2 separate regions of the Homo sapiens genome follow, and region 1 is linked to region 2. A link means that fine-mapping ties the variant in region 2 to the expression of a gene that starts in the linked region. Tissue or cell type: lung. Region 2 holds a variant in brackets; the other region holds the start of a gene. All regions are shown on one strand. Distances are between the middles of the regions.

Evidence for each region. PIP is the estimated chance that this variant, and not a neighbour inherited with it, causes the effect.
Region 1: NXPE4 starts here. The variant in region 2 is the best candidate, but not a certain one, in a credible set for the expression of NXPE4 in lung (TOPMed, PIP 0.75).

The regions. Positions count from the first base shown.
Region 1 is chr11:114,593,124-114,598,719 of GRCh38, forward strand. It overlaps NXPE4 (neurexophilin and PC-esterase domain family member 4), which reads right to left and starts at 2,663. Exons shown (of 6, transcript NM_001077639.2): 1 at 2,469-2,663; 2 at 1,541-1,646. The coding sequence starts at 1,636. It also overlaps a transcript of NXPE2 not described here.
Region 2 is chr11:114,479,269-114,484,864 of GRCh38, forward strand. It overlaps a transcript of NXPE2 not described here. Among named protein-coding and RNA genes, the nearest start is that of REXO2, 43 kb to the left of the region's middle. The variant T/C (reference allele first, on the strand shown) is at 2,259.

The sequences.
Region 1 (5,596 bases), 110 kb after region 2:
TTTTTGGATAAGACCTCAAATGCACAGAGAAGAAAAGCAAAGATAGACAAATGGGATTATATAAAACTAAAAACTTCTTCACAGCAAAGGAAGCAATCAAGTGAGTGAAGAGTTAACCTACAGAATGGGAGAAAATGTTTGCAAACTATCCATCTGACAGGGGATTACTATCCAGAGTATTCAAGGAACTCAACCAACTCTATAGCAAAAATATTTAACAATCCAATTAAAAATTGGGCAAAAGATCTGAATAGACACTTACTAGAAGATATGCAAATGGCAAACAAGTATATGAAAAGGTGCTCAACATCATTGATCATCAGAGAAACACAAATCAAAACTACAGTGTAATATAATCTCACTCCTGTTAAAATGGCTTTTATCCAAAAGACAGATAGTAACATATGCTAGTGAGGATGTGGAGAAAAGGGAACACTTGTACACTGTTGGTGGGAATGTAATTAGTACAACCACTATAGAGAACAGTTTGGAGGTTTCTCAAAAAACTAAAAATAGGCTACCATATGATCCAGCAATCCCACTGCTAGGTATATACCCAAAATAAAGGAAATCAGTATATCCAAGAGCTATCTGAACTCCCATGTTTATTGCAGCACTGATAACAATAGCCAAGATTTGTAAGCAACCTAAGTGTCCATCAACAGACAAATACATAAAGAAAATATGGTATATATACACAACGGAGTAGTATTCAGTTATAAAAAGAACAAGATTCTGTCATTTGCAACAACATGGATGGAACTGAAGGTCATTATGTTAAGTGAAATAAGCTAGGCACAGAAGACAAACTTTGCATGTTCGTTTTTATTTGTGGAAGTTAATACTTAAAATAATTGAAGTCATGGAGTTAGAGAGTAGAATGATGGCTACCAGAGGCTGGGAAGGGTGGTGGGGGCATGGAGGAGAAGTGGGGTTAGTTAATGAGTACAAAAATATGATTAGACAGAATGAATAAGATCTAGCATTTGATAGTATAACAGGGTAACTACAATCACCAATAATTTATTTTACATTTAAAAATAGCTAAAAGAGTATAATTGTCTTGTTTGTAGCACAAGAAAGGATAAATTCTTGAGGCAATGAATACCCCATTTACCCTGATATGATTACTATGTATTATATGCTTGTATCAAAATATCTCATCTACCCCATAAATACATACACCTACTTTGTACCCACAAAAATTAAAAATTAAAAACAAACAAATGAAAACCAAAAATATAGATATTCTGTTCTTCAGATGTTCCCTTAAAGAAAGTAAAAAGATGAGCTAAGCATTGAAGAAGATAGGTGCAATGCATTTATTTGTGACAAAGAAAGAATGTGTATGTGTGAACACACACACAGTATTTATCCTCTCACATATTGCTTAATGATTATCAGGTATGTTGTTTGGTATCTAGCTATTCAAACTCCCCTCCTATAATCTACAAGTCTTGTAGTTTAGCCTTTCCTAGAACAGATGAGGTAATAAGCAAAAATAAGCTTCTGTAAACCACATAAATAAAGCATTTCCTACCTTTGTGGAGTTCTGGAAAACTGTAAAAATGATCCAGGAGGCTAATATAAACAACAGTGCCAATAGTGACTTATAATTTATCATACTTATTTTCATGATTAGGATCCTACAAGAGACAATACAAAAACAAGCACAAAAACATACAACAAAACAGAAAAGCAAACAAACATGGGAAACATTTGAAATTTTTTTGGCTCATGATTACTTTTTAGCCTCAGATAAATAACTCCCAGAAATAAACCTTCACCCCCGCAAGCTGTACTTGGTATCTCCCAGGTGCTCTCTTTTAGCTATCTGCTTGTACATTCTACAGAACAGATAATTCATGGAGCCCACTGTGATCTTTAAGAAATCGAGCAGCTTAAGGGCCTGAAGGATGCAAGCTTGCTCGTGTCTAGATGAAGTCTCCAGACTATTTGTCACCTATCAGGTTCCCTGTTCTATTCCCTTAAACTCAAGGGCAGACACAAAATACTCCAGCAAATATTAACACTGAGAACCACATCATTACAGTGCCTGTTGAATGCAAATTAGTTTTTCTGTTTCATTAATGCCAATCTATTAATATGTCCTCCTTTTCTGTTTTAGCAGGCTTTCTAGCACCCCCTCAAGCTTGAAAAGAATTATTTTAAAACATTTCTTACTTAAAAAAATTTCAGGCTTTATCAGTATTTTTCCATGATTCATCTTAACATTTCTCTTTGCACCGGAATTCCAAGTTCTCTTTTAACTTGGAACTTTAAACTTTAACATCAGATTGCTTGAATGCTGCCTTTCTAAAACTTTCCATCCCTCAAAATTTACCCTCCCCTAGAAGCACCTTTCACCCCAGATCCCTAGTTTATACATGGGCATTAGATGTTTCTGCACCCAAAAATAAATGTCACACCTTTCCCTCACCTTCCCAATTTTACAAATTTTTTCATACCTTTAGTTTACAGATTGTTCAATCCCATACATAGACTCTCTGGCGAGCTAGGTGTTGAGAATTTCTTCTGAAGCCACCAGTGTGCTACTGGCATACCTCTTGTCTATACCAAAATAAATTGCAGATATAAGTTGCAGTTTGTTTACCTTTAGCATGGATTCACAACCTTCTGCTTGTTTCAGCTAAGACAGAAGTGTCAGCCACGTCAGCTCCACCTTAAGGAGGGGCCTGGATCACAAACTGTAGTTATTAGCTCAAGCAGAGGTAGGAAGGAGAAATGAAGTGCTCTGCATAGTAGGTTATATGATTTCAAATTCCTGAAGTTTTATAAGTCTAATTCTAGTTACAATAAATAACTGATGAGAAAAAGAGTGTTTGATAAATAATTGTATTTAGTTAATACAATTTGATAAATATTATAGTTACAATAAATAACTGATGAGAAAAAGAGCCACAAGTTTGAATGATTGAGAGTAATCATCAACAGAAAGTCAAACTTTCTAGTTTCCATCTAGCGTTATCATCAAGACCCAGTTGGCAGGATTCAAGTGCGTATTATCTCATACATAGTAGGTTTCAATACAATTTGCTGAATTGAACTAAAAGAACTTCAAATATAACATAGGGAAGACAATAATATTAATTGCATCTGAGACTAACAGAGTGACAGCTTGTAGTCATGGGTTTGAATCCATCTGGGATTTGTATTCTTGATCTGATGAAAACAGTGCTGGAAAGAGCAGGCACCCAGACAGCTGCACCAGTGCCCACAGGAAGCAGTAGCTGCTGGCCCTGTGGCTCCGTCCATGGGTTGATTACTGCTGCCCTACACAGGAGGGCATGCCCATCATCTTTCCATCTTATTTAAGCATGCCCATCAATCTTTCCAGTCTTATGTTTTTAAAAAGATGGAATCAAGACCAGTTTCACAACTGGTCTACTTGTTTCAGATCTTGAAATTCTTCCAACATCTTTGATCCTGTTCTACCAAATTCACCTTAACAATACTTCTTTATGTCTTTACTTGATGACCTTTGGAAAAGCTGTTTTAACATTATAAAACTGGGTGTAGGATTGTTAAATTTTTCACTGAGGAGCCTATAATAAGAAAAAAGTATTTGCAGTGGGTTTGGTTTGGCTGTTCCTTAGAGGACTGATGCCAGCAACCACCCAAGTTCACAGTCTACTCTGAGACATATAGATTTATAGATTTTAATTTGGTTTGGTCACATAGATTTTGAAATCTAATGTTAACCTGGAGTCTGTTTATGAGGTAGGCACAATAGATATGCTTGACTTAAAGAACCAAGAGTACAAAAGAAAGTTTGAATGATTTGTGCAGGTCATCTGATGAGCTTTGAAACAGGGCTGAATCCAAGATTCCTTTCATTTTGATCTCTAACACTGTGTGTTTATAGTGTATATGTATAACAACATAAGCACAAAGAATGAAAACTAGGAAGTTGGAAAAACTATCTTGAAGTCTTTATACCATGTGTGAATTGGGATAATATTACTTGAAGGATAGACTCTGATTAATTAAGAAAAATATTGTAACCCTGGTATAACCACTAAATATTTCTTTTAAAAAGTGGTATACATAATAAATCAACAATGAAGATTAAATGAAATAATAAAAAATGTTTGATTAGCCCAATAGAAGGAAAAGGAGGAAAAAAAGAAGTGGAACATAGCAAACTGTCAATATATTCTTAAATTCAAATATATGAACAGTGATCTGAAATCTGAATGATATTAACCAGGGGTGGACAAACTTTTTCTGTAAAGAATCAGATAGAAAATATTTTCGGAGAAAGAAACTATAAACAAGAAAATGTAATGGGTATATTAAAATTAACCTTGTGATATTCAGTTGGAATTAGAATAATCAGTATGCACTCAGTTTTTTGATGGATAAATATGCATTTTTATGCATACATGGGTTCATGCACACAGATGTATATTTTCAAGCTCTGTCCATAGAGAAGCCCTAGAAGCAATGACACCTAGTGCCTAGACCTTGGTTTCTTAATTCTCCAGTAAAGGGAGCCAGAATTTCTTGGAGAAGTGGCTGGTTGATTCCATCACTTTGTCAGGGGATATGAAATGAGCCTGGAGCATCTCGGGGTGCTAGGAAATGCCTTTTAAAAAATGGAGGTACATGTCAAAATGGCCCAGAAGCTAACCTGAAAGAGCTCCTGATGACCAAAGTTGCAACAATTTGAGCCACAAAATAAATAACAATTGTTTTGGAATATATATTAATCTACACTCACATTTCAAAATACAATCATTGTTCTCACATTTCAAAATACAATCATGCCTTCCCAACAGTCCCTCAAAGTCTTAGTGAATTTCAGCATTAACTCAAAAGTCTGAAGTCCAAAGTCTCATTTGAGACAAGGTAAGTCCCTTCCACCTATGAGCCTGTAAAATCAAAATCAAGTTAGTTACTTCCAAGATACAATGGGACTATAGGCATTGGGTAAATGTAAAAAAATTCCCTTTTACATTCTAAAAGGGAAAAATTGGCAGAAAGAAAGCAGCTACAGGCTTCATGCAAGTTCAAAACTCAGAAGAGCAGTCACTAAACTTCAGAGCTCCAAAATAATCTCCTTTGACCCCATGTCTCACATCCAGGGCACACTAACGCAAGGGGTGGGCTCCCAAGGACCTGGGCAGCTCTGCCCCTGTGGCTTTGTGTTGAGTGCCTTTGGTTTTTCCAGGTGCAGAGTGCAAGCTGCCAGTGTATCTACCATTCTGGGGTCTGGAGGATGGTGGCCCTTTTCTCACAGCTCCACTAGGCAGTGCCCCAGTGGGGACTCTGTGTGGGGGCTCCAGCCCCACATTGTCCCTCCACACTGCCCTAGTAGAGGTTATCTAGAGGGTTCCACTCCTGCAGCAGACTTCTGCCTGGACATATAGGCTTTTCCATACATCCTCTGAAATCTAAGTAGAGTCTCTCAAGCCTCAACTCTTGCACTCTGTGCACCTGCAGGCTTAATAGCCTGTGGAAGCCACCAAGGCTTATGGCTTGCACTCTCTAAAGCAATGGCTTGAGCTGTACCTGGGCCTCTTTGAGCCATGGCTGGAGCTGGAGCAGCTGGGATGCAGGGACCAGTGTTTTG
Region 2 (5,596 bases):
TATAATTGGATTTGATTCGATTGATGGAAGGATGGGGCAAGAATGGTTGTAAGGGATTTAGGGAGCTACTGTAGTAGTTAGGCAAAGAATAAGGGTAGCTTGGACTAGTGGGCATATAGAGAAGGGACATCTATGTCACTAAGCATTTGAGAAATATTTAGGAGTGGAATAGGATCTTGTGATTGTTTAAATGTGAAAGGAGTTGCTGAGGGAGAAGAAGGAATCAAGGATGACTCCCAGGTTTCAGACTTGAGTAATGGGCTGGGTGGTGATGTCATTTCCTGAGATGGTGAACACTGGGAGGAACAGCAGTTGGAATTGAGGTATAGGAAGGAGGAGTTAATATTTTGGACACCGAGTCAGCCATGCAGAGATGTTTAGTAGGCAGTTAGATCCAGCAGTTTGAAGCTTAGGAGACAGGGCTGGAGTTTGCATGTAGATTTGAGAGTGGACAGCTGAGAGATGGCAATTGGAGGGCAATGGATGAGACCCCACGGTGTTAGTTCATTTTGCATAGCTATAAAGGAATACCCAAGCCTGAGTAATTTATAAAGAAAAGAGGTTTATTTGGCTCACAGTTCTGCAGGCTGTACAAGAAGCATAGGAGGACATCCGCTTCTGACGAGGGGGTCAGGAAGCTTATAATCATGGTGGAAGGTGAAGAGGGAGCAGATGTGTCACATGGAGAGAGAAGGAGCAAGAGAGACATCAGGCTTTTTAAAATAACCAGCTGTCCTGTGAACTAATAGATAACTCACTCATTACTGTGGGGAGCACACCAAGCCATTTGTGAGGAGTCCAACCCCATGACCCAAACATTTCCCACTAGGCCTCATCTCCAACACTGGGGATCACATTTCAACATGAAATTTGGAGGGGGACACACATCCAAACCATACCACTGCCCAAAGAAAGCCTCTAGATGGAGAAGGAAAGAAGACCCAGAAGGAAGCCAGAGCAATGTCAGACTGTTTTGGTCAAGGAAGAGGAAGAAGAGCCAGCAGTAGATACTAAAAAGGAACAGCTAGGAAGATGGAAGGAAAACTATAATCCCTTGGCCAAGTGATTGGCTCAGGGGTGGCCACATGGCCCATACAGATTTCTTTCTAGGATAGATAAATGAATGTTGGGGAGAAAATTCTTTCTTTCCTATTGTGTTTGCTAAGCTAAAAAGACGTTAATCTGGTCCATGAGCAGCCACCTTTCCTGCTGCATGTGAGAGCTTTTCTGAAGAAGGAAGCTGGTGCACAACCAGAAGCAAAGTTGAAAAATGGAGAGCAATGAGCTCTGATGACACTGTGTGAGAGGTGATTCTAGCTGTTATGTTGAATCCCTTATTTACCAGTTACGTGATAATGACCTTTCTTACCTAAGCTAATTGACTTAAGCTTTTGTCATTAGCAACTGAAAGTATCCTAATTAATACAGCGACCGTTGGTTAAAGTATTCACTGTATTGTTGTGGGAGACCCTTATTAAATACCTTTATGGGCCTGAAGCCCACTATTCCTATCCTTCTGCAATTACCGTAACAAAAAATAGGATAATTAATTTGTGACTTTTTAATTTTAAGTTACTTCAGAACAGTATGCTCCTTTTCAGGAAAATAAATTATATTACAACAAGGGAAGGCAGTATTTGCTAGATTCCTTTGAGAAATCTCTAGAGATTATACTTGCTTGCTGTTTTAATGTTTCAACTAGGGGATGGAGAGGGACCTGCCTCAAACAAGATACCAGAGTTATGATTGGATTTGTCGAGGTCCCGTCATTTCTATCCCAGGGGATAAATAAAAGGAGGCAGAACCCTTGTGCTGTTGTGTCCACAAAACTTGGGTGTTTAACCCTCAGGACCAGGTCAGTTCCTAGCTTAGTGTGGGGCAGTGGGGTGAAGGTTTCCCACTTTTGACAGAAGGCTTAAAACTGTGATGTAATATTTGAATAATACTTAGTGTTGCCTGAGGAGAATGATCAGAGAGCTTTGATTGGTCTTTTGTGTCTTGCTGTCCTGAAATTTCTATCTCGTTTCTTAACAGGTTTCAAAGTAAGCCTAGCACAGAGAAGGAACTCATCTCAGATTTTGGTAAGGTTTTAAAACACATACGATAATTTAATTTAGAGCATTGTTGCCTAAAAAGAGCAGTACACTATCTCAGATAAATTAAAATGGCAACAATAGCGCTTTCCTTAGAACATGTGAAGAGGGCAGATACTTTTAATTTTGTGTGTGTGTGTGAAAAAGGAAGTGAAATTTTAAAAA[T/C]AAGAAATACAAATCTAAAAGGTGAATGACACCTGGTAAGAACAACAACACAGATCATATTTAAGGAAATTCATAAAATTAAACTTGAATTTTAAAGTTAAGTTAGAAGACATGTAATTTAAAAACCTTTGGGAAGTAGTAAATCTACTGGTGCAGTGTAGAAATCTCCCATGTAGTAATTCAGTTTCCTTTTCAAATGCTCATTGATGGCATTTAATTCTGTCTGTTGGCAAATTTTTGAAATCTATCTCCCTTCTAAAGGGAACTGAGGACTTCATCTCAGTTGTGTACTTTTCATTCACCTTTCCACTCTTCAGTAAAACAAATACCCCTCATAAGCAATATTCAACACCACTATGTTTATACACCACCCTTCCTATACACTTGCAAGTAACTGTAGCGAAAGATTCAACCATCTTTTCCTCCTACCTCGGCATTGAAGGAACATAGCACAGGTACCATTAAGAATAGCCATACACAAATTGAGAGAGGCTTTAATCCACCTTTCAACTGAAGAATGAAAGATGGATTAAAGCCTCTCTCATTTTGTGCTCCTGGGCAAGTGGTGGCTGGCACGCACACATTTATTGAGTGCCTGTACCGTGTCAGTAGCTATGCAAGGTTGAGAGGATACAGAGATGAAAAAAATATATTTCCTGCTCTTAAGTAGTTCACAGCTTATTGTAAATCCAAATACAAAACACAGCAGTGTATAGGCTCCTCAGCATTGAGGCTGAGGTTAGGAATGCAGCTGTTAGCTCCAAAACAAGGCAGTTGGCTGACCTGGGATCCACATTCAAGACACTGGCCTTGTCAAAACTGCAGTTTAACAAACTGAGTTAAGCAACTAGAACTATCTGTTCAGTCTCAGTGTTACCCTGAGTACTCATGAAAGAATTTCAGAAAAAATTCCTAGGCAATTTCCTCTTTACAGACAAAGCAATGCTAACATGATTTTTTATTTGGGATTTAGAGCATATTTTTCATTAGTTTTAACTATATTTTCAACATTTACATATCCTCTTTCTCCCTTCCTCCCTGCATAACAGTCAATTATGTTTCTTCAGTTATTCATCCCTGTTTGAAAGCAGCTGCAAGGTGCCTTAGTTAATACAGCTGCAACTACTAAGGTCTTGTATGGCCACCTTAGCCCCATAATGCCATCAACTACTATCACATTTGTCTAATCTGTCAATCCCATGCCTTCCACCACTGTATTTTGAATCTGAGTGCACTAAGACTTTCTCCAACACTTCTCTACTCTGTATGTGTGTCATTTCATAAGAAGCTTTGTTCCCATAGGAGGTGTGGTTGCCTTGAGAGATCTGCGAATGTACAATCAATCCACAGAGTTTTTTTTCAGCCAATTGTTAGTTGTAATTTCTCATCATTGGATTACAACAGTTAGGTTCCTCCCACTGCTCCCAGCATCCAGCTACTAATAATTCTACTCCTCCTTCACTTCCTAGCGTTTGTCATTCACAAAGTTTCTACTTAGGAAACCTTGCCAAACTTACTTTATATTCTCTTTGCTTTTCATTTTTCATTTACTACTACCCTAATCTATAGTCTGTATATTCCTTATAAACATAAGTTTTGAAAGCAACAGTAAGATTTTACAATTTCAATATATAGATTTGTTAAAATACTTAAATTGTTTAAGAAATAGCAGCTGACATATTTGAGCCAGACTGCTTTGGTTTAAACCCCAGCTCTGCCACTCGCTGGTTGGGCTACTCATTTGGACTCTTTAAGCATCTGAAAAATAAGTATAATAATAACATATAGGTAGTATTACATAGTGGTTAGAGTGAGAGGATTCTGGCGTTGTGTTCAAATCTTAGCTCTGTCACTTATTTGCTGTCTAATCTTGATCAAATTTACGTAAGTTTTCTAAAGCACAGTTTGCTCTTTTATCCAAGGATAATGATAGCACCTGCCTTAGGAGATTGTTGTATAAATGCAAGGCCTTAAGCCCAGTGCCTGGCACATCTTAGTACTAAACACATGGTCGCTGTTCTTAGGAAAAACACATAGAGTTAAAATTGATCAACCAAAACTCAGATATATAGCTTTCTAACTTTTCTGTGTCTGGCTTAATATTGTTCCTGTTGTTGATGGGTAGGGGAAAAAGCAAAAGTTCCCATCCCAGGCAATAGTCTATTACAGTTTAAGCGGGTATCTTTCAGATGACTCCCACATTTCTTTTGTTGGTAGAATGGAAAGTCTTAGAGGATTCCTCTCCCTGCCATACCCCTGTGATCACACTCCCTTCCTTCTTCTCTTTCCCTGATTGGTCTCTGGGCAGAGAAAGAAGCTTGCATCACCTCGTGGTAGTAGGAGTTCCATCCCAAGAGGACTGTTCCTCTGCTGCTTCCCACTGACCCCTGGCTGATGTGCAACTCATGCTACCTCACCTTTGAGTGTCTGATGCTATTCTTTCTGCATCTACCACTGATGCTTTTATGGGTTGTGTAGCTTGTGGCCTGTTTTCCAGTCAAGGGAAATGAAAGATGGTTGCTCTTCCATGGAGAACTTGGGAAAGTTCTCCGTCATGTCTTCCTGATGACTGAGCCCCCACTGGGCTCCTACTGATGCTGATGACCTAATGTGACTCAGCAGCTCTCCTTTTCCATACCCCTCCCCTATCCCTTTGTATTGTTCAACTCTGCCGTCCTTTCCAATTGACTAATGGAATTATATATCCTGCAAGTTATTCAGTTATCAAAATTCCAAGTGGAAAGTGAAATTCAAGTCCCCTCTTTGCTTTTGGCATAGCCTCAAACTATCTGGGGTATTTTTATTGCACTTTCCCTAAGTTTGGGATGTGGGGGGGTAGAATTGAGGACGTCCTTGATGACTGCATGTGCTCTCTCCCTCTCTCTTTTTCTTTCTCCTCTCTGGGCTTGTTTTCCCAGTGCCCAAAGGGCTTTCCACCTTTCCTCTCTAGGTAGCGGGAATGCCATATCTTTTTTGTTGTCTACTCCGTGGCTTTTTGTAAGATTCTGATCAAGTTGGCCAGACTTGACTCTCTTGATTTATGATCTACAATATATGAAGGGATATTAGAAATCCCCGTTATTCTCCTTAAAAAACAAACCAAGTTAGCTTTCACGTCTTTTCTGTTTCTGCGGGCTAGAATTCTGGTTTGAACATGTAAACTGAGCAACACTTCTCTTTCCACCTGAAATGATGAACATTGTTGATTAGGTAGGTGGGACTTGCAGGATAACATGACATATGGGAAATGAAATTTATATCACTTTAGTCTTTCAAAAATGTTCTTATTTCTATTTGTTTATAGAATGATAAAAAAGCAGAAAAATAATCATTCATAA